7 linked regions of the Homo sapiens genome follow. The protein of the gene in region 7 interacts with the protein of the main gene of each other region in a pairwise test. Each region holds a gene or a part of one and is shown on either strand. Other genes may lie near its edges. The genes, in order: NOL4, THAP4, METTL2A, MTG2, GLRX3, OSTF1 and MAPK6.

What was found.
Region 1: the proteins of MAPK6 (region 7) and NOL4 interact in a two-hybrid assay, tested with the Homo sapiens proteins (one large-scale study listed by BioGRID and IntAct).
Region 2: the proteins of MAPK6 (region 7) and THAP4 interact in a two-hybrid assay, tested with the Homo sapiens proteins (one large-scale study listed by BioGRID and IntAct).
Region 3: the proteins of MAPK6 (region 7) and METTL2A interact in a two-hybrid assay, tested with the Homo sapiens proteins (one large-scale study listed by BioGRID and IntAct).
Region 4: the proteins of MAPK6 (region 7) and MTG2 interact in a two-hybrid assay, tested with the Homo sapiens proteins (one large-scale study listed by BioGRID and IntAct).
Region 5: the proteins of MAPK6 (region 7) and GLRX3 interact in a two-hybrid assay, tested with the Homo sapiens proteins (one large-scale study listed by BioGRID and IntAct).
Region 6: the proteins of MAPK6 (region 7) and OSTF1 interact in a two-hybrid assay, tested with the Homo sapiens proteins (one large-scale study listed by BioGRID and IntAct).

The regions. Positions count from the first base shown.
Region 1 is NC_000018.10:34,214,914-34,218,413, reverse strand, and holds part of NOL4 (nucleolar protein 4), read left to right. Parts: intron 1-3,500.
Region 2 is NC_000002.12:241,602,659-241,606,158, forward strand, and holds part of THAP4 (peroxynitrite isomerase THAP4), read right to left. Parts: intron 422-3,500; coding exon 312-421; intron 1-311. UniProt on the Homo sapiens protein: Heme-binding protein able to scavenge peroxynitrite and to protect free L-tyrosine against peroxynitrite-mediated nitration, by acting as a peroxynitrite isomerase that converts peroxynitrite to nitrate.
Region 3 is NC_000017.11:62,447,897-62,450,890, forward strand, and holds part of METTL2A (tRNA N(3)-cytidine methyltransferase METTL2A), read left to right. Parts: intron 1-678; coding exon 679-833; 3' UTR 834-2,994.
Region 4 is NC_000020.11:62,186,028-62,189,527, forward strand, and holds part of MTG2 (mitochondrial ribosome-associated GTPase 2), read left to right. Parts: intron 1-2,506; exon of another isoform or gene 2,507-2,811; coding exon of another isoform or gene 2,812-2,854; intron 2,855-3,481; exon of another isoform or gene 3,482-3,500. UniProt on the Homo sapiens protein: Plays a role in the regulation of the mitochondrial ribosome assembly and of translational activity. Displays GTPase activity. Involved in the ribosome maturation process.
Region 5 is NC_000010.11:130,174,391-130,177,281, reverse strand, and holds part of GLRX3 (glutaredoxin-3), read right to left. Parts: intron 2,416-2,891; coding exon 2,376-2,415; intron 2,286-2,375; coding exon 2,193-2,285; intron 1-2,192. UniProt on the Homo sapiens protein: Together with BOLA2, acts as a cytosolic iron-sulfur (Fe-S) cluster assembly factor that facilitates [2Fe-2S] cluster insertion into a subset of cytosolic proteins.
Region 6 is NC_000009.12:75,126,514-75,130,013, reverse strand, and holds part of OSTF1 (osteoclast-stimulating factor 1), read right to left. Parts: intron 2,446-3,500; coding exon 2,395-2,445; intron 1-2,394.
Region 7 is NC_000015.10:52,025,719-52,029,218, reverse strand, and holds part of MAPK6 (mitogen-activated protein kinase 6), read right to left. Parts: intron 1,581-3,500; exon of another isoform or gene 1,346-1,580; intron 1-1,345. UniProt on the Homo sapiens protein: Atypical MAPK protein. Phosphorylates microtubule-associated protein 2 (MAP2) and MAPKAPK5.

The sequences.
Region 1 (3,500 bases), on a different chromosome or scaffold from region 7:
GAGATACCAGTTTTTTATTTTTCCGTTGGTTCTTCCTTGTCCTATTAGTAGCCACAATAGGGAGATGGGGCAAGATTTGGCACTCGTATATATTTCTTCTGTAATCTTCCTTAGTTTGCTGGGATCCTGCTCCCTACGGGTTTACTCTCTAGACTCACTGCATAAGACGGAGGAATGATGAAGTAGAAAATACAGGCATATGGCAGGAGAACTTTCAAGGACTTTAATTTTGTGTCAAGTCTATAAAGACCTTTTCCTAATAGCTGTTGTGTTTGCTAAGACTTTCACTCTTTGTTTTTTGTTTTTTTTTTTTTGGTCTAACTGGGAAAGATGAATGTGAATCTACTATGTTTTAGGTTATATTCATTTTTACAATCTTTATATAACAAGATAAAACAAACTTCATGGATAGCATAGATGGCAAGAAACATGGCATAGTGAGTAGAGTGTTGATTTTACAGCACAATTTAAATCCTGGCTCTGACGTTTACTGGAGTTCTGGGTCGGCTAAAGTTTAACTAAAGATGCAGTTTCCTCTTGTAAAATGTTAGTATTAATACTAGTCTTACTAGTTTTGCATAGTTAGTAGTGTATATAATATATACTAACATATACTATATATGCATATGCACACATATATACACATACATATACACACACATACACACAAGCATGTGGTATATGTAGCATATGCCGGGGACATAGTAAATGCTAAAAAAAAAAGTTGCTTAAAATATGATTCATAGAACATGAAAATCACGATGTAATTATAATTAGGTATATTTTATGAACTCAAAATCACATTGCAACACGGAGCTAAAATACAAGGTCAAGCGCGGTGGCTCATGCCTGTAATCCTAGCATTCTGGGAGGCTGAGGCAGGCGGATTGCCTGAGCTCAGGAGTTTGAGACCAGCCTGGGCAACACAGTGAAACCCCATCTCTACTAAAATACAAAAAAAATTAGCTGGGTGTGGCCATGTGCCCTTGTAGTCCCAGCTACTCGGGAGGCTGAGGCAGGAGAATTGCTTGAACCCGGGAGGCGGAGGTTGCAGTGAGCCGAGATCGCACCATTGCACTCCAGCCTGGGCAACAGAGTGAGACTCCATCTCAAAAAAAATAAATAAATAAAAAAAAAGAAAGAAATACAAGGTATACTTGTATGTATTTATGTACATATGTATTATTAAGATTTATTCTACCTACTCCATTTTTGGAAGAAAAAATGACTGTTATTGTAAAAGTGATACTGTCTCAGTTTTTTAAAAAAGTTAAATGAAAAGGAAAGAAATAAAGAAAAAGTCATACCAAATGTCCCATCAAAATATAATCACCGTAAGCTAATTATGAACATCATTCTAGATTCCTCTCTAGAAATATATGCCAAAAGAAGAGTCGATAAAATGACTGATAGTTGCATATGGACAGGCAGAAATAATTTTCTAAAACTAGGATGATGATGATATGCTAATTTAAGTAAGAATAAGAAAATATAAGATTGTCAATGCGACAAAAGAAGAAATACATAAAATTTAATGAATTGCTAATAGATAAATGTTTCTTCTCAAAGATATTTATTCCTGAAGTTAATGGAAAAGATTAAGAAAAACTTTAAGATGTTGAATTACACTTATTTTACCAATTACAAATTTCCGTTTTATAAGTATTATTGACTTTCTCTAATGATAAATGAGAAGCATATTTTCACTTCTTCCCACCTCCTTGTTTCTTAGATCCTGGTTTACATTTCATTTCACTTATTATATTATACTTATTATATATTATAATTTATTATATTCATTATATTATAATTATGTTTGTGTTGTCAGGGTTGTTGATATTAATGTTAAATTATGTAATTTCATTTTAAACATTATTTTCCTATTTAAATGTTTATTATCTGTTTTGTTATCTGGTTTCCTTTACCTCTGAATTCCTTGATTTGATTGACTCTAATTACAGTTTATCATTTTTTTCCTAAAGTAGGTCCATGCACTCTATTCTTTGAATTTTATATACAATTGAGAGTATTTGTCTTTTACCTTTATCCTTGAAGGACAACTAACCAGATGCAGATTCTGTATTTTACTTTTTCTCTCAGAACATTATAGATATTGTGTGTGCTCTGTAAAATTCTAAGGCAAATTGATTTTCCCAAATTTCATGAATTGTTTACTTCTTTATCCTTGAAATTAAATTATTTTGCTAAGATATATTTGAATTTCTTGTCTAACTCTATATTTTGTCCTGCGTAACTGTGCCCCTGTTTATGACTTCAGTTAGGCCTGTGTTCTGGTGACATAATGTATATCTTCTGAAGTCTAAATCTGTACAGTTGATCCTTGAACAACACAGGTCAGGATTGCCTGGGTCCACTTGTATGTGGATTTTTTTCAATAAGTATTTGGAAAATTTTTGGAAATATATAACAATTTGAAAAAACTCTCAGATAAACTGCATAATCTAGAAATATAAAAAATCTAAGAAAAATATATGCCATGAATGCTTAAAATCTATGCAGGCACTAGTCTATTTATGGCTTAATAGACTATCTTTTTGCTAAGGCTTGCAGTCAACAGTAGACTATTAGTAGTTAAGTTTTGGGGGAGCAAAATTATATGCAGGTTTTCAGGGGCAGAGGGTGTCAGTACACCTAACCCCAGGTTGTTCAAGGGTCAGCTGTATTTTCGATTTTCTATTGGGTGTTTTCACCAAGATATCCCAAAATATCTCAAATTAAGTATGTCTAGAAACACATTTTTCTTCCTTCCATTTTCCCATCCGAGGTCCTCCGAGCTGACACATCTTTTTCTTATTCCCTCTCTCCATGGATAGCAGCACAACTTTACTTACCTGTACAAGGTGAAATTTGTATGGCAGCCTTGATTTCTCCCTCTTATAGTCAATGTTCAACTGTTGGTTGATTCTACTAAACTAATATTTCTTGAAGCCATCAGATTCTCACCATATAATAAAATATGCCTATTGCTTAATAATTTGTTAAATTTCCACAAAACTATTTTGAAGAAAGATTTAATCTCCAGTACCTGGCATAATGGGTGATGCATTTTGATGTTCAGTATTAATGGAATAAATAAAAATCACTTCCCAATCTGACATGACATAATGGGACATTATACAACAGCTTCTTATTTACCACCACACAAGAGCTTTTTAGTTTTATCTACATCTATATCTATCTGTCCAACTGTCCATCCATCCAACTATGTGTTTTAATTGTGATAAAAAAAACACACAACATAAAAGTTACCATATTAATCATTTTACATTGTAGACTTAAGTAGTGTTAAGTATATTCACATTGTCTTGCAACAGATCTCCAGAGCTTTTTCATCTTGCATAACAGAAACTATATTATACAACAGTTCCCCTTTTTCCTTTCTCTCCATCACTTGGTGAAGTGCCATTTTAGTTTCTGATTATATGAATTGAACTACTTTAGATGCCTCATATAAGTGGAATCATACAGAATTTGTCTTT
Region 2 (3,500 bases), on a different chromosome or scaffold from region 7:
CCCAACCTGTTTTCCAGCAATTCCTAATGAATGCACACAGCTGATGGCCATTTCTGCAGACGTGGCACTGGGTAAACGGGCCCTCATGGTCAGGGGGCTGCACGCACACAACCTGTGTGCCGGAGGCCCCTACAGCTACACAGTCGGCCCCGCAGGCTCCCAGGACCACTCTCAACACTCAGGGCCATCCCCACGGTCCCCACCAGCACATGCCTCAGCAGGGTTGCACATGGGCATCCCTGCACCCCTGCTTCGAATGCAGGCAGCAGCCTCCCATGGCCAGCCCTCCCGCCCCGCAAGCTGGGCCTCACCTGTGTTCTGGGCGCTGACAAAGGCCACCTTGTTGGTGTCGGGCTTGAGGCGAATGAAGCCACACTCTCTGTGCATCGGCTTGCGCGTGTCCGGGTGGAAGGAGTTGAACCTGGACGGGAAGTTGGAGTTGAGAAGCCCAGGCACTGGCCTCCAAGATGGCGTGGGCTGCGTGGATGCCAGAACTGTCCAGGGTGCCCTCCAGGTGGCTGCTCCAGCCACACCCGCACACCTGTCTGCCCCTACCACCACCTTGCTCATTTTGGCTGTGTCTGTCTTACCTGCTGACCCTCCACTCCTGAAGACGGGCTGTTCCAGCCACGCCCACACACCTGCCCGCCCCCTCCACCACCTTGCTCATTTTGGCTGTGTCTGTCTTGCCTGCTGACCCTCAGCTCCTGAAGACGGGCTGTTCCAGCCACACCCGCACACCTGCCCGCCCCCTCCAGCGCCTTGCTCATTTTGGCTGTGTCTGTCTTACCTGCTGACCCTCAGCTCCTGAAGACGGGCTGTTCCAGCCACACCCGCACACCTGCCCGCCCCCTCCACCACCTTGCTCATTTTGGCTGTGTCTGTCTTGCCTGCTGACCCTCAGCTCCTGAAGACAGCACTGTTCTTAATCACCTCAGGGCATATCCTTGCCCTGGGCCCGTTAGCCCAGGCCTCACACAGTGTCAGCCCTCAGCACTCCCTTGCAGTAAACCTCACCCTAACACAATCTTTCTCTTTTGAGCTATGCTCTTGTGTAAGAATCTAATCAATTCCTACGGTAAAAAACAGAACAGGTGCTGAGTTATGGTATGGTTTCTTATCACCCTTCATCATTAGTGCAAATTCTCAACAGTAAAAGACAGGCACCTGCATCTTGAACTGAGGGCACAAAACCACGGCTTAAAAACTAACTCGCTGGCATGGTGACTCAAGGCCGTAATCCCAGCACTTCAGGGGCCCAGTCGGGTAGATCTCTTGAGCCTAGGAATTTGAGACAGGGCTGGGCAACACAGACCCTGTTTCTACAAAAATAAAAACAAAAAAACCAAACCAAAAAAAAAAAAGCCTCATTTATCATTTCACCAACCTTATGAGTTTCTATAGGGAATCCATCTCTATGATTCTTAGAGATAAACTTTATTTATTTATTTTTTTGCTCTGTCACCCAGGCTCGTCGCGGTCTCAGCTCAGTGAAACCTCCGCTTCCTGGGTTGAAATGATTCTCCTGTCTCAGCCTCCTGAGTAGCTGGGATTACAGGCGCCCACCACACCCGGCTAATTTATTTATTTATTTATTTATTTATTTTTTGAGACAGAGTTTCTCTCTTGTTGCCCAGGCTGGAGTGCAATGGCGCTATCTTGGCTCACTGCAACCTCCGCCTCCTGAGTTCAAGCGATTCTCCTGCCTCAGCCTTACCGAGTAGCTGGGATTACAGGCATGCGCCACCATGCCCGGCTAATTTTGTAATTTTAGTAGAGACCAGGTTTCTCCATGTTGGTCAGGCTGATCTTGAACTCCCAACCTCAGGTGATCTGCCCACCTCAGCCTCTCAAAGTGCTGGGATTACAGGTGTGAGCCACTGTGCCCAGCCACACACCCGGCTAATTTTTGTATTTTTGTATTTTTTTTTAGTAGAGACACAATTTCACCACATTGGCCAGGCTGGTCTCGAACTCTTGACTTCTAGTGATCCACCTGCCTTGACCTCCCAAAGTGCTGGGATTACAGGCGTCAGCCACCGCACCTGGCCAAGATAAACTTATTTATTTATTAAAACAAATTTTTTTAGGGTCTCACTGTGTTGCCCAGGCTGGTCTTGGACTCCTGGACTCAAGTGATCCACCCGCCTTGGCCTCCCAAAGTGCTGGGATTACAGGCACGAGCCACCGCGCTGGGCCAAGATAAATTTCTGTTGGGCTAGTGATGGTGCTACACCTTCTAGAATGGTACATGCTCACTAACATAACCCCGACAAAGAAATACATTTATACCATATTCTAGGACACACACACAAACACACATACCATCACATTTACTGAAATATATTTTCCACTCTGGTTCATTTTTCTTCGAATGCTAGTCACAAAATTGACTTTCTGACCTTTTCGTGGGTTATAATCTATAGTTTAAAAAAGACTGCTTGGGTTCTGGGTTATTTTGTATTACCCAGAATTCTCACCTTTTGGTTTATGTGCAGATGTATTACTTTGACCTCATGCATTCAATCAATAATAATATAAAAAGGTAGGAGATATTTTTAAAAACAATGAGATCTTCTAAAAGGGGATGGAGGGTCTCAGAGCTGGGGGTCTGAGAGCCAGGTGCCCAGCCCCGTTCTGAAACTGCTAGGCATTATACAAATAGTACCAAGTTGGTTTAATAAGATTCTTAACATATAGTTGTGTAATGGAGACTAAGGGAGGGTTTGCTTTTTATATTTTGTTTAAACTTTAAAAAAACTGTGTATTACTTCTATAATTAAAAAATAAAGATACTTCAACCACTCCCCATCCCTGGTGGCTCTCCTCTACTTCAGAGGCCTACACTGCTATCTCCCTAAAAGCAGGCAATTTCTCCACCTGTGGGGAGCAGGTGGTGGGAAGGGATACTGAGGGACCTCAAGGGGCTTTTGCTTTCTTGTACGGTAAGAATATGAGAACCACATACTAACAGCTTCCTTGTGACCCCAAATAGCTCAGGGGTACGTGTAAAATACAAACATGCACTATTATTTTCAGTAATATTGGGTGACTAATTTTTTTCTTTTTTTTTTTGAGACAGGTTCTCACTCTGTCACCCAGGCTGGAGTACAGTGTTATGATCACAGCTCACTGTAGCCTTGGCCCTCCCTGGGTTCAAGCAATCCTCCCACCTCAGTTTCTCGAGTAGCTGGGACTACAGGCATGTGTCACCACACCTGGCTAAATACTTTTCAGTAGAGACAAGGTCTCACTATGTTGCCCAGGCTGGTCTTCAATTCCTAAGCTCAAGCAATCCTCCTGACTCAGCCTCTAAAGTGCTGGGATTACAGGTATGAGCTACCGCACTGGCCAGGGTGATTAATTTTGATACATAAATTAAGTACATGCATTTGTTTTTATGTTTGGATTAACAAGCCTGTAATTTGGTGGTCAGCTTAATATCTCCAAAAATATAACAGAACCAGAAAGTATCATTTTTACCACTCTGTGTCTCAGTT
Region 3 (2,994 bases), on a different chromosome or scaffold from region 7:
TGCTCACACCCTCTTCCACCCTGGGCTAGGCTACCCATGGCAGCCAGGCACTGGGGCCCCCAGGCAGCCCTGGCTTGTCCATGCCTTCAGTCCTGCTCTGCTCTCCCTGTCTGCCACTGTCCAAAATGGGAAGCCTGCCCACTCTGCAAGGCTCATCTCCAGTCCAGCCTGTTTCACCCTCTACACGGGGTTGTGCTTTGGTGTGCCCGGGTCAGGGTGAACCCTGGGTTCTAGGGGTGCTGGGAACTGCTCTCCTCTGCAACTGGCCTATCCACAGGCTTCATCCTTCACCTGGGCCTTCCAAATTCTCCGTTCCTGGGCCCTTTTCAGGGTCACCTTCTTTGAGCCTTTGGTTAAGATGATGAAACCACTTTCCTAAAACAATTGCTTTGACATACATAGATATTTTTGCATAAATTTTAAGGTGTTCATAGAGCCTAAAGGCCAAATATAAACCAAAGGTTTTTAAAAAAGAAAAAACCGCGGCCCATACGCAGTGGCTTCCCCTACCTAAACATGAACTTACTGTTACCAAGCCACCACTGCATTTATAACCAAATGGCCATGTAAAAAACATGACAGCAACTTCCCAGAGCCCCTTTTAACAAGGACTTAGTAGATAAAAATGCCTTTTCTTGAGGGGAAAAATGCATAAACATCTTTTATTTTCCACACTAGAGGAACTGGACACGCTTTTCACCACTGCTGGACTGGAAAAAGTTCAGAACCTGGTGGATCGCCGACTGCAGGTGAACCGAGGAAAGCAACTGACAATGTACCGGGTTTGGATTCAGTGCAAATACTGCAAGCCCCTTCTGTCCAGCACCAGCTGAGAGGCACCTGCTGCCAACACGATGCAAGCCCATTGTGTTTCCGGGCTTTTTTAAAAAAAAAATTGTAGCACTGGGCGTGGTGCATGCCTGTAATCCCAGCCACTCAGGAGGCTGAGGCGGGGAGGATCCATTGAGCCCAGCAGTCCAACCTGGGCAAAATAGTGAGAGACCCTGTATCTGAAAGTAATAATAAAAATAAAAAATATAAATGAGGTCTCGTTGATGTTGGACAATTCAAGAATTCAGACTTGAACCTTAAACCTAGGAAAAGTTACTTTGTATCAGGATTCTAACAATTATGCTTCATATTTGTGAAGTCCTTTAAAACATAATTTTCTCAAGTTCTTTCTTTGAGATCTCAATCTGTCTTAGCATTTTGTAACTAATAACTGAAATTTTATTCAAAGGAATTGTAAACCTTAAACCACCAATTTATTTCCATGTGAAAAAGTGTTACATATGACAAGTGTTTTTTGACTGTAATTGCGTTAAATCTTTTGAGAATGTAAATGCCGGGCTAGGCAATTGCAGTTAATACATACAGAGGTTAGTGAAGGGCTTATTAAGTTGTAGGGGAAGCAAGCTGGGAAGAATCAGATCAGATATTTTCCTGACAAAAAAAAATGACCCTACAGAGAGCATCAAAATGTGGTGTTCTTGTTAAGTAATTGATCGTGGTCTTCGCTTTAATCTTAGTTCCGCCAGGCACGGTGGCTCACACCTGTAATCCCAGCACTTTGGGAGGCCAAGGCGGGCGGATCAGCTGAGGTCAGGAGTTGGAGACCAGCGTGGCCAACATGGTGAAACCCCGTCTCTACTAAAGATAAAAAAATTAGCTGAGTGTGTTGGTGGGTGCCTGTAATCCAGCTACTTGGGAGACTGAGGCAGGAGAATTGCTTGAACCCAGGAGGCAGAGGTTGCAGTGAGCTGAGATTGTGCCACTGCACTCCAGCCTGGGCAACAAAGCAAGACTCTGTCTCAAAAAAATAAAAATAAAAAAAAAATCTTAGTTCCATGGAATTTTAAGCATTGTTCCCCCTCTAACCTGTGTCTAAAGAATTAAAAGAATTTGGCCGGGTGCGGCAGCTCATGCCTGTAATCCCAACACTTTGGGAGGCTGAGGCAGGCGGATCACGAGGTCAGGAGATCGAGACCATCCTGGCCAACACGGTGAAACCTCGTCTCCACTAAAAATACCAAAAAAATTAGCTGGGCATGGTGGCACACACCTGTAGTCCCCTGTAGTCCCAGCTACTCGGGAGGCTGAGGCAGGAGAATCGTTTGAACCTGGGAGGTGGAGGTTGCAGTGAGCCAAGATCATGTCACTGCATTCCAGCCTGGGCAACAGAGGAAGACTCCGTCTCAAAAAAAAAAAAGAAAAGAATTTTCACTTTTTGCAAAATTATCTTTTTTAATGCACCCTTAAGTGTTTGACACAAAAGGAATTGAGGGAACTTCTTAATTTTAACCACATCATCACTTCACTTCTGAATGTGATCATTATCAGTGTTAGATGCCTTTTTTTTTTTTTTTTTTTTTTTTTTTTTAAGGAGACAGGGCTCTCACTTTGTTGCCCAGGCTGGAGTTCAGTGGTGCAATGATAGCTCATTATCACCTCAAACTTCTGGCTCAAGCCATCCCTCCGCCTCAGCCTCCTGAGTAGCTAGGACTGCAGGTGGGCACCATCATGCCTAGCTAATTGTTAGATCCTTTTTTTTTATGTTCTGCATTTTTTCAGTTATTTTTACATATTTCTCTCTTGATCCATGCAGTTATAGGATATATCCTTAATTTTAGAAAGTAAGGACTTTTCGACCAGGCGTGGCGGCTCATGCCTATAATCCCAGCACTTTGGGAGGCCGAGGTGGGCAGATCACTTGAGGTCAGGAGTTCCAGTCCAGCCTGGCTAACATAGTGAAACCCCGTCTCCACTAAAAAATAAAAAATCAGCCCGGCATGGCTGTGGGCGCCTGTAATCCCAGCTACTCAGGAGGCTGAAGTAGAATTGCTTGAACCTGGGAGGCAGAGGTTGCAGTGAGCCGAGATGGTGCCATTGCACTCCAGCCTGGGTGACAAGAGCGAAACTGCATCTCAGAAACAAAGATGCCTAGCTTTCACCTTGTTGATGTTTTTCTAAATTTTGGAATAATAAATTTATATA
Region 4 (3,500 bases), on a different chromosome or scaffold from region 7:
TCCATGTCACCTGCATCAGGAAGCCTGGTTTCCAGAATATCCGGGCTGGATGGTGTAACGTTCCAGCAGGCTGAGCCGTGGCTATGCTTGTGTTGATGAGCCCGAGTTGTTTTTCCCCAACCTGTTTTTATGCACCACCCCTGAGCCTTCCCATCTGATAGCTCTGGGTTAAGTCTCTTCACCTGTCTGCCCAGTTTCCGCAACTTTAAAATGAGGATGATGAAGGACTTACTTCACAGAGTTTTATGAGGACTGAATGAGTTAATCCCTGAAAAATACTTAGAACAGTATTTTGCAAGTAGTGAGGTAGAGGTCTTGAAGGTTTACTGTGAAATTATTTTCAGGTACTTTTTGTATTTGGCACTACCATAAATGGGGTTTTTTCTTAATTTTAATTTACAGTTGTTTGCGGCTGGTATTTAAGAATACAACTGATTTTTTTATATTAGCCTGATAACATGCCATCTTGCTCAGTTCCCTTCCCTGGGACTTTTTTTTTTGTTTTTTTTTTTTTTTTTTGAGATGGAGTCTTGCTCTGTCACCCAGGCTGGAGTGCGGTAACGTGATCTCGGCTCACGGCAGCGTCTGCCTCCCAGGTTCAAGCGATTCTCCTGCCTCAGCCTCCCGAGTAGCCGGGACTACAGGCACGTGCCACCACGCCTGGCTAATTTTTATATTTTTAGTAGAGATGGGGTTTCACCATGTTGGCCACGCTGGTCTTGAACTCCTGATCTCAAATGATCCGCCCACCTCGGCCTCCCAAAGTGCTGGGATTACAGGCATGAGCCACCGTGCCCAGCCTTCCCTGGGATTCTCTGTGGAACTCTGTCCTCTCTTCTGTAAACAGGGACAGTTTTACTTCTTCCTTTTTTCCCCCTTTATTTCAGTGTGTGAAAGGACATTGTTGCATAGCAGTGGTATGTGTGGAGGCCCTTTTTCTCCATCTTGGGAGGTAACCATTCAGTATTTCTTCATTAAATGTGATTAGCTGTCGGCCGGCCCTACGTAGTGCCCTTATCAGGGCGAAGATGTTCCCGTCTGTTCCCAGTTTGCTGAGATGTTTTGTTTTCCTCCTCATGAGTGGGTGTTGAGACGGTGGTACCACCTGTTGATATAGTGAAGTGCCTGGGCTGAGTTTTGACTGCTTGATGTGGCCTTGTGTTCTGAGATTACCCCTACTAGGTCTTGATGTGTGATCCTTTCTGAACTGCTGGATTCAATTGGGTAATATTTTGTTAAGAGTTATTTGCATCTATATTCATGAGGGGTATGGTCTATAATTTTATTTTTTCTTAGTGTCAGATTTTGGTACTAGCCTCATAGGATGAGTTGGATAGTGATCTCACTTCCTCTATTTTCTGAAAAAGCTTGTGTAAGATTGGCACTGTTTCTTCCTGGAATGTTACATGGAATTTACCAGGAAAACAAGCCGAGCTAGAGTTTTCCTTTGGGGAGTGTTCTTTTATAAGAAATTTAACTTATTGAGTAGATACAGGGCTATTCTAGATTGTTTATTCTTGTGTTTCTTTAATAAGTTGCCTTTTTCAAGAAATTTGTCCATTTCATGTAAGTTGAATTTGTTACTGAATTTGCTGGCATGAAGTCGTTCCCAGCATTCTCTTGCCCTCTGGCTGTCTGTAAGGTGTGTCCTGATAACCCGTTGAACATTCCTGACAGTGGAGGTTTGCGCTCTCTCGTTTTCCTGATCAGGCTAGAAGTGTGTTAGTTAGCTTGTCTTTTCAGTGAACCTGTTTTTTTCTGTTACATGTTATTGTTGTCTCTTTATTTCTGCTCTGTATTATTCTCCTCCTTCTACTCGACGCTTACTTTGCTCTTTCTGGTTTCTTGATTTGGAGCCTTAGGTTACTGATTTTAGATCTTTCTTCTTTACCAAGGTAGCCATTAGAGCTGTAAGTTTCCTTCTAAACACTACTCTAGCTGCATCTCTTAAATTCTGGTATTTCATGGTGGCGGGCGCCTGTAGTCCCAGCTACTCGGGAGGCTGAGGCAGGAGAATGGCGTGAACCCGGGAGGCAGAACTTTCAGTGGGCCGAGATCACACCACTGCACTCCAGCCTGGGCGACAGTGCGAGACTGTCTCAAAAAAAAAAAAAAAAAATTCTGGTATTTTGCATTTCCATTATAATTCAGTTCAAAACATTTTGTAATTTCTCTTTTGATTTCTTCTTTGGCCTATGGATTATTTAGAAGAAGCTTGTTTGATTTGCAGGTATTTGGGATTTTCCTAGATATTTTCTAGCTATTGACTTCCAATTTAATTCCGAGAATAGACCCTGTGGTTGGTATTCATATACTTCCCCCCAGCCCCACCACAGAAGCTCTGTCACACAGGCTGGAGTGCAGTGTGTGATCATGGTTCACTGCAGCCTCCAACTCCTGGGCTTAAGTGATCCTCCCACCTTAGCCTCCTAAGTAGCTGGTATTATAGGCATGCACCACCATGTCCAGCTAATCAGCTAATTTTTTTTTTTTTTTTTTTTTTTTGGTAGACACAAGGTCTCGCTATTTTGCCCAGGCTGTTCTCAAATTCCTGGCCTCAAGTTTTTCTCCTGCCTTGGCCTCTCAAACTGCTGGGATTACAGGTGTGAGCCACTGTACCGGGCCTTTCTGTATACTTCAAGTAATCTCTAGATTATTTATAGTACAATACAATGTAAATGCTATGTAAATAGCTGTTATACTTTATTTTTTAAATTAAAAAAATTGTTGTATTGTTACTGGTTTTTTTGTTTGTTTTCCAGATATTTTTGACGTGAGGTTTGTTGACCCCACAGATACGGAGGACTGACTATGATTTCTTCTCAATGTATTGAGACTTATGACACATCTTATGGTCTGTTTGATGACTTCCACCTGTACCTGAAAACAGTGTATATTGTACAGTTGTTGGATGTACTGTTATGTAAATGTCAACTAGATAAATGTTTTGATAGTATTGTTCAGATTTTATGTCTTTACTGTTTTTATTTTTCTATTTTTAGACAGGGTCTCAGGCCAGGTGTGGTGGCTCATGCTTGTAATCTCAGCACTTTGGGAGGCCAAGACAGAAGGATCGCTTGAGACCAGCCTGGGTAACTGGGAGACCCTGTCTCTGCAAAAAAAATTTAAAAATTAGGCACAGTGGCACTTACCTGTAGCCCCAGCTACTCAGGAGGCTGAGGCAGGAGGATCTCTTAAGTACAGGAAGTCAAGGCTGTAATGAGCTGTGATTATGTCACTGTGCTCCAGCTTGGGTGACAGAGTGAGACTCTGTCTCAAAAAAAAAAAAGAAAAAAAAGTGTCTCTTTCTCTCATTCTATTGCTCAGGCTGGAGTGCGGTGGCATATTCATAGCTCATAGCAGCTTTGAATTCATGGGCTCAAGTGATTCTCCCACCTCAGCCTCCAAAGTAGCTGGGACTATAGGGGTGCGCCACCATGCCCAGCTAATTCCTTTGGTAGAGACAGGAGTCTTGCTATTTTGCCGAGGCTGGTCTCGAA
Region 5 (2,891 bases), on a different chromosome or scaffold from region 7:
ATAACAACTCACAATTTTCTCAGGACACTAGATTAGCTGAGTAACTAAATCATCATTCAGTCCCTCATTCAACAAAACAAACGCTCATTGCTCCAAAGAGGCCAGCCAGATTAGACCATTTCAAACATCTTTTAATTGAACTGAACATGAAGAACTGCATTCTGCAAGAAACAGATCAAAATGGGATCGTAAGATCTATTCCATATATCTTCTCAAGGAAAAACGTTAACAATATCACACATTTCAAACGTATATGTTCTTAGCAGGTGAACATAAAAAATCATATAACACTCTGTTATATAACTAAAAAGAAGTTACCCACGCAGCTTAGCTTTAGAATTAAATGAGATTTATTGATTGTATCTTCCCAAGAGTTACCAATGGCTAAGGTACAGGCTATAAAACATTCAGACAAGAACAGGCTCAAGAGTATTTGGGGTTTGAGTATTCTTTGTGTCTTACAAAAATAAGACTATATATATATATATAGAGAGAGAGAGAGAGAGAAAGAGGGAGGGAGGGAGGGAGGGAAGGAGGGAGGGAGGGAAGAAACAAATGCAGATCTGTTTCTGCTGCTTCAGGGCTATTCAAGAGCAATAGTCTTAAAAATTTTTTCCTCCAGGAGTGAGACCATTCCCCAGGAAAAATGTCTCACTGGCTTGTTTAAGAAGTATGATATCAAACCTGGAACTCCACAGGAAACAAAACCTACACAGAGGCCACCAAAGGACAAAAAGAGCCTCTGCATCAATGGAACTCAAGCTTTGTTTTTATAAAACATATTGGTCCAAAGTGCTGATGTCATTTCAGTGGTAGGCTAGTGCTTCACTTTACAAAAGCACGTGTTAAAAACTTTTATTTTGGCCAGGCGCGGTGACTCATGCCTGTAATCCCAGCACTTTGGGAGGCCAAGGTGGGCGGATCACCTGGGGTCAGCAGTTCAAGACCAGCCTGGCCAACATGGTGAAACCCCATCTCTACTAAAAATACAAAAATTAGTGGGGCGTGGTGGCGGGTGCCTGTAATCCCAGCTACTCAGGAGGCTGAGGCAGGAGAATCACATGAACCTGGGAGGCAGAGGCTGCAGTGAGCCGAGATTGCACCATTGCACTCCAGTGGGGAACAAGAGCGAAACTCTCTCAAAAAAAAATGTAAAAAAAAAAAAAAAACTTTTATTTTACAACATAACTAGAAGTAGTACTACTTGCTATTTGTTTTCCACATAAAAAGTCGAAGATCTGACCTCAGAAAATTCTCTCATGGATTGAGGCAAGAGGAAGGCCTGAGGGCAGTCAGCAACCCACTTTTCGGGGCAGTTTTGTTCATGCCCCTGAGCAGACCCTGGCATTCCTGCCCAGCATTCCTGTCTAGCTCCTCTCTATACCCAACCAGCTACCACCCTCCTCGATGCCACCATGCCCACAGTGGGCCTGGGGTGCAGTGGGGTCTGTGTGTAGATATTAAAGCTACAGCTTCTGTTTATTGTTTTGGGCTAATCAAAGAGCTACAGAGCACACAGGTGTTAGTTGGTGGGCCTGCCCTGAATTCTAGACATTAAATACATGCAAAGTAACGTCCATTTAAAACTCAATCAAGAAGTAAAGTCACTTATCCATCCAACAACCATTTACTGAACTCCTAAAATACACAAAGCATCAGGAAGGACTCAAGATACATAAGAAATGGTGTCTTATCTAAAACACAATCTAACAGATAACAGATTTCCAAGCATCTCAAAACCAAAAAGGACCTACATTTTTTCTTTCGGGGGACCAGGGGCAGTGATCCTCAGCCTCTGTGGCAAGGATGGGCAGCACCGGGCCACAGGCCTCACACTGCTGTCACTCCATGCACCCAAGGGCAGATGAGTAAGGCAAGAAAAAACAATTTGTTGTCTGGGAGCTGAAGCAGGATCTAACAAGGACCCTGAGTGACAGGGAAGATCACCCCACAGAAAGGAGATGCAATGGTTAGCTCAGGTGTGAAAGTAAGAACAGGCTGCCACGTGGGGACAGTGAGAATGGCAGGGTAGTCATGCACACAGAAACGGTGATACTGGTCTAGAAATGTCTGAGAGTCAGGCTGGAAACAGGAGTCAAAAACAACTCTCAAGTTTCCATTCAATATGAAATCATTTTTAAACATACCAAAATCTTTTCCGTTCTTTAGAACAGCAGAAGAACTGGCCTTACCTTCACAATATCCAATCCTCCCACCAGCTCCCCTTTCACATACAGCTGAGGGTATGTTGGCCAATTTGAGTAAGCTTTTAATCCTTGCCGAACCTAAAGAAACAACAGGAATCCTGAAACCATCCTATCAGGCCCTTAAGATTAAAGCTAAGACAAGGGTGAAACATCAAACACAGAACTTACTTCTTCATCCTCCAATATATCGAATGTTTCATATTCAACACTGCAAAAAAGAGAAGACATTTTAACTGGAAATACAGTTAAATCAAAGTGTAAAACCTCTATGCATTTGATGTTTTTAAAATAATCAAGAAAACCGTTTCACTGCTAACAAAATGTACTACAGACCAATGGAAATGATTTTACTTCTTAATCTGTCTGGTACTACACAGAATTAGTCATTCCAACATATGACTTTATCTGGATTTTTCTCCGGACAATATTGGGTTAGACCAGGGGTGGGCAAACTTCTTCTTAAAGAGTCAGACACTAAACACTTCAGGCTTTACAGGCCAGACAGTCTCTGCTGCAACTGCTCAGTTCTGCTCTCTGCTGCAACTGTCAGCATAAAAGCAGCCACAGACAATGTATAAATGAAGGGATGTGGCTATGTGCCAATATAACTTTATTTACAAAAATGGGCAGCCAGCTGCAACTTGCCAACCCCTGGATCAGACCCACACCCCCATCTGCACGAGC
Region 6 (3,500 bases), on a different chromosome or scaffold from region 7:
TAAATTCTAGACATCATATTATTTCATTTGTAAATATTTCAGTACGTATCTCTGAAAGACACATACTTTTTGAAAGGCAATTATAATGCCATTATCACAGCTTAAAAGTTTTTTCCAACAATAATTCCTTAATATCATCAAATATCTAGGTCGATACTCAAATTTCCCAACTGCCCCATAATTTGGGACTCAAATAAGGGCTATACAATATGATTGATTTGTCTTTAAGTATCTTTTAATCTATAGGTTGTCTCTCCATTCTTTTTTATCTCTTACAATGTATTTGTTGAAGAATCCAGTTGGTTTGTTCTGTAGTGTCAACCTCTATGGATTTTGCCTGTTGTATCCCTGTGTTATCATTAAGCATGTTCCTCTGTTCCCTGTATTGCCTATAAATTGGTCATCAGTTCTAGAGGTTTAATTAGATTCAGCTCCAATTTTTTTTGGCAAGGCTATTTCCTAGGCAGTATTGATTTCTTCCATTAGGAAATGCAAACTATCTAGTCGGCTTCTTTTTGTAATGTTAGTAGCCCTTGATGATCATTGTCTAGATCCACTATTTCCTAGAGGCTGCAAGATGGTGACATTCTAATTCTATCATTCCTTCTTCATTGAAATAACCTGAATACCTCTTTAAACAAAAACTTCCTCATCAGCTCTCAGATTGCCCAGGTAAGAAATTCATAAAGAAAACACAGAATAAATGGTGATTCTTTCCCTTAACAGTTGTCAGAATAAAAACCTGATTTCCTAGCATTCTCTCATGCTGACCAATGAGATTTCCTCAGAAGTAACATTAGAAACTCATAAATTTAAATGTATTTAATGGGTTTCAATTCTTGGAAGTTGTTGCCCTAATTGATGCTCAAATTGTCCTATCTTTGGCCAGTGGGAGTCTCTTCAAGTTCGTTCCCAAGTCCTTTCAGTGTGACCCTACTGTCTTTAGGAGCTTCCATGTTTTCTAATAAGAGGATGTTCTGGGTTTATCTTGTACCTCTGCTGCCCCTGACTTGGTACCAGCCATTTCTCAAAGAAGCCTGTACATTTCAATGGAAAATAACATATTATTATTGGGTTGGTCATTTTTCCTAGGCCCTTTCAAAGAACACAGCAGGGAATATTTTTGTTTTATTTTAGATAAAATACAATGTGATCCTTGCAATTCAGATGAAGGAATACAGAGTTTTTCTTAAACTGTCATTAATCTTACATCTGTGTATCCTTTTTGCTATGCTGAAAATCCGTTAGCAACATCACCGACCTAATTACTCATTTGCTCTAAACCACAATACACATGCAACAATCTCAGAATTAGCAATACCTACATTTCCCTAACAAGGGCATGATTTAAAACAATTTACCCTTTTTTGGCCATTTCTTTTTGTCCATATATATATATGGACAAAATATATATATATATATATATATATATGGACAAAATATATATATATATATATATATGGACAAAATATATATATATATATATGGACAAAATATATATATATATATATGGACAAAATATATATATATATATATGGACAAAATATATATATATATGGACAAAATATATATATATATGGACAAAATATATATATATATGGACAAAATATATATATATATATATATATATATATATATATATATATATATGTCTTTCATACATATCCATATTCTACTATGGATGTTCAGTCAAATTGCTGAGTTTTAAACTTGGAATATTTCCTCTCTGTGTGGTTAGGCCAATTACCAGGGTACAATTAAGTTCATTTGATTCATTCTGCTTTTAATTTTTAGGGATTGCTTTTTACTTCAATTTTTAACCATGTCAAGGTTTACATCAGTTCAAAGTCAAATCCACAAAACAAGGTATAATTTTCTAAAAAGTCTATCTTCCATCTATGTTCATTATACCCTATTTCTCTCCTTCCACCTAGAGAAAGGATCTTTACTCTTCATAGAATAAAACTAAATTTTACTTTGCAACTCATCTTTCAACTTTTTATCTGAAATTGAGAAAAACAAGTGTCTGCATGTATGTGTGTGTACACATACACTCTCACCCTTTCCTAGAAAACTGAGGATATATTATCTACATTTTCTCACTTTGCTTTTTTTTTCACTTAAATTACTTCATAATAGCATATAGAGATATTCCCCATTTCTTTCTACAGCTGCATAATATTCTGTTTGTGGCTAGACCAAAGCTTATTCAACTCTTTCCCTATTGATGGAAATAAGGGCTATTTTCAATCTTATGCTACTATCAATTGTGCTAAAATGAACAGACTTGTACATATGTATTTCTATGTACATATATATTTAAATAACTTACAATGTTATAGCTACATAAAACAGTCTTTATATGTGGTATTACAAGATGTTATCTGGACTTACCATGTCAGTAATGTAGATAATATCACCTTCCTCAAAGTATAATTCATCTGGCTAGAAGAAAAAAAAAAGTTTGACTCCATGTGATTTTTCATGAATTAGAATATGATTATATAGATTCAAAATTCTATCATATTCTAATAAGCAATGTGGTTTTATACACTTAAATCAGCACATAAGCCATATAATAAAACACTACTGAAAAATTAACACATGAATAGACGGCTAGATTTTTTTCCCATGATGAACTTCAAAGAATTACATATATAAAGATTCTCCACACACATCTTGCATTCTTCTACAACCAAAGCAAGACATTTGTATATCAAAATAGAGTATTAATAAAACTTCTTCCTTGTAGAAATTCTAAAAGGTGGTATACATTTTTTCATAAAAATATAAATGTCTAGAATTAGAGTCATGAAAAACAGCCAGAAGCTTGATTTTCTCTTAAACAAGGCCTCAATCCTTGAACACTTTAAGATCAACATCTGCTATCTGCTCATTTTAAGAAAATCATTATCCTAGCTCTTCATGTTCAGGGAGAATGAACATTTTCTGTATGAGAAAAGTTAATATGTAATTCAACCATTAATAAGGCTAAAGAGCTAAAAGATATGAAGCAGTAACTCAGCCAGTCCAGAAACCCCAAGCAGCTCTAAGGAGTTGGCTAATTACACAGACCATATGTGCTCTGGCCTGTACCAACCAAATGTTCTAAAAACTTTCTGAGGCCAGGTGCGGTGGCTCATGCCTGTAATCCCAGCACTTTGGGAGACCAAGGCAGGTGGTTCACAAGGCCAGCAGTTCAAGACCAGCCTGGCCAAGATGGTGAAACCCCATCTCTACTAAAAATACAAAAATTAGCTGGGCATGGTGGGGGATGCCTGTAATCATAGCTACTCGGGAGGCTGAGGCAGAGAATTTCTTGAACCCGGGAGGCAGAGGTTGCGGTGAGCTGAGATCACGCCACTGCACTCCAGCCTGGGTGACAGAGCGAGACTCCGTCTCAAAAAACAAAACAAAACAAACAAACAAACAAAAACAACCAAAAAACACTTTCTGAATAAAGATACACATTTTAAACATCTTTTGACCATCAGTAGATA
Region 7 (3,500 bases):
TAAAAATACAAAAATTAGCCAGGCGTGGTGGTGTGCGCCTGTAATCCCAGCTACTGGGGAGGCTGAGGCAGGATAATCACTTGAACCCAGTAGATGGAGGTTGCAGTGAGCCAATATTGCGCCACTGCACTCCAACCTGGACGACAGCGAGACTCCGTCTCAGAAACAAAAAAAAGCATACAGTATAACAAGGTGTAAAGTAGAAGGAAAACAAGAACATATGTCTCATAAAATGAGAAGTAGATGAATAGGCCGAAAACAGTGGTCAACTATATTGAATGCTCCTACAAGAGCCTGTAAGACTAATTTAGTAAATAGAAACCACTGGCAACCTTGACTAGAGTAGTTTTAGTGGTAAGAATGGAGGCCAATCTGTAGTAGGCTGAGAAGCAAAGGGAAGTGGAGAGAGCACAAAAAGACAACTTTTGAAAACTGGCTTGGAAGAGAATCAGAGAAATGAGGCTGTAGCTAGAGAATAATGTGGAATGGCGAGAGGGCTTATAAACAAGGAAGCCACACTTAGTGCTGTCCAATAGTGTTGTCTGCAATGATAGGGATGTTCTATATCTGCACTGTCCAATAGAGCAGCCATTAGCACCATATATGGCTACTGAACAACTGAAATATGACTAGCATCACTGAGGACCTAAATTTTTTAAATTTTTCTTTTAACAGCCACACATTTCATTGCAGAAAGCACTATTGATTAGTAGCTACCATACTGGACAGTACAGCCCTAAAGCACATCTGCATATTAATAAAGATAATCCAGAAAGGGAAAAATTCATGATGTAGGCAAGAACGAGGTAAGTCCTTAAGAAGTCAACAGGCTGGCAGGGTGCGATGGCTCACTCCTGTAATCCCAGCACTTTGGGAGGCCAAGGCAGATGAATCACTTGAGGTCAGTAGTTCAAGACCAGCCTGGTCAACACAGAGACGAATCCGTCTCTACTAAAAATACAAAAATTGCCGGGCGCGGTGGTTCACACCTGTAATCCCAGCACTTTGGGAGGCCGAGGCGGGCGGATCACAAGGTCAGGAGATCGAGACCATCCTGGCTAACACGGTGAAACCCTGTCTCTACTAAAAATACAAAAAATTAGCCGGGCGTGGTGGCAGGCGCCTGTAGTCCCAGCTACTCGGAAAGCTGAGGCAGAAGAATGGCGTGAACCTGGGAGGCAGAGCTTGCAGTGAGCTGAGATCGCACCACTGCACTCCGCCTGGGCAACAGAGCGAGACTCCGTCTCAAAAAAAAAAAAAAAAAAAAAAAATACAAAAATTAGCCGGGCGTGGTGGTGGGCACCTGCAGTCCCAACTACTCAAGAGGCTGAGGCAGAAGAATCACCTGAATCTGGGACGCAGAGGCTGCAGTGAGCCAAGATCGTGCCACTGCACTCCAACCTGGCCAACAGAGTGAGACTCCATCTCAAAAAACAGTAAATAAATAAATAAATAAATAAATAAATAAAGAGAAATCAACAGGCTGAGCAGAGTGGCTCATGCCTGTAATCCCAGCACTTTTTGAGGCCGAGTCAGGATGATTGCTTGAGCCCAGCCTGGGCAACACAGGGAGACCCCGCCTATAAAAAAAAAAAAAAAAATTAAGATTAAAAAAAAAGTCAAGAGAAGACATCCAGAGCACAAATGGCACAATCTACATGGGATACAACATGAACAAAGCAAGGCATGAAATTACAGTAACGGGTAGAGATGAAGACTCAGAATATGTATTAAGCCTGATTGGAATCTTAAGCATAAAACTCAATTACAGAGGGCTATAAAATCCAAGCAGGAGGGGGAGGGTAGGTAACTTACATCTACTAAGGACCTATTATGTGACAGGCATTTTCTTTTTTTTTTTTTTTTTTTGAGAGGGAGTCTCGCTCTGTCACCCAGCCTGGAGTACAGTGGCACGATCTCGGCTCACTGCAAGCTCCGCCTGCTGGGTTCAAGCAATTTTTCTGTCTCAGCCTCCCGAGTAGCTGGGATTACAGGCATACGCTACCATGGCCAGTTTTTTCGTATTTTTAGTAGAGATGGGGTTTCACCACGCTGGCCAGGCTGGTCTTGAACTCCTGACCTTGTGATCCGCCCGCCTCGGCCTCCCAAAGTCCTGGGATTACAGGCATTAGCCACCGCGCCCGGCTGTGACAGGCATTTTCTTTTTTCAAGACAGAGTATTGCTCTGTCGCCCAGGCTGGAGTGCAATGGTGTGATCTCGGCTCACTGCAACCTCCGCCTCCTGGGTTCAAGCGATTCTCCTGCCTGGGCCTTCAGAGTAGCTGGGAGTACAGGTATGCACCACCATACTCAGCTAATTTTTTGTATTTTAGTAAAGACGGGTTTTCATCATGTTGGCCAGGCTAGTCTAGAACTCCTGACTTTGTGATCCGCCTGCCTCGGCCTCCCAAAGTGCTGAGATTACAGGCATGAGCCATCGCGCCCAGCCATGACAGGCATTTTCTAAATGACAAATTATTTCTCTCATCTCAAACTACAGTCTTGTAAATGTCATTTTACAAACAAGAGCACTGATGCTCTTTACACACACAGTAAATGCCAAGATTTGGACATAGGCCTGTGACTATAGGGTTAGAATCTTCCCACTGCATAAGGTGGGAGGTTAAGGCCAGGCACGGTGGCTCACGCCTGTAATCCCTGCACTTTGGGAGGCCGAGACGGGTGGATCACTTGAGGTCAGGAGTTCAAGACCAGCCTGGCCAACATGGTTGAAACCCCATCTCTACTAAAAACATAAAATTAGCTGGGCGTGGTGGTGCATGCCTGTAATCCCAGCTACTTGGGAGGCTGCAGCAGGAGAATCACTTGAACCCAGGAGGCGGAGGCTGCAGTGAGCGAAGATCACACCATTGCACTCCAACCTGAACAATAAGAGCAAAACTCCGTCTCAAAACAACGACAACAACAAAACAAAAAAAGGTAGGAGGTTAAGAACCACTGTTTCGGTACCTGGAATTAACATAAACAGCAGATCAATCTGGAAGTAATCAACAAGTGCCAACAAGCCTAGAGGGACTAGGCCAGAGGCAAAAACTATCCTGCCAATGCTTTCCACAGGATAACTAAGGAAAACTTAATAGCTACTTTTTAAAAATTCAAGTGAAAATACCTGTTAAGATGGAAAGAAACTGACTTGCTTACAACTTAGATTATCTACTTTATTGAACACAGATGTATCAATTAGAAAATCAGCACTGTTTTATAATACATACTGAAATAATATCTGGGCATATTAGAAAAACTAAGTCAACATACTCTCTCTCCAATTTGTACATTAAGAAAGGACAATTATTAAACTGAGTCTAACCAGTTATTAAATTACAGCTTAGATTTTAGAGTGGGCAAAGATCATCTAGATCTGTGCTGTCCATGTAACCACCAGCTACATCCAACTATTTTTATTTTTTTTTGAGACGTAGTCTTGCTCTGTCACCCAGACTGGAGTGCAGTGGCGCTCACTGCAAGCTCCGCCTCCTGGG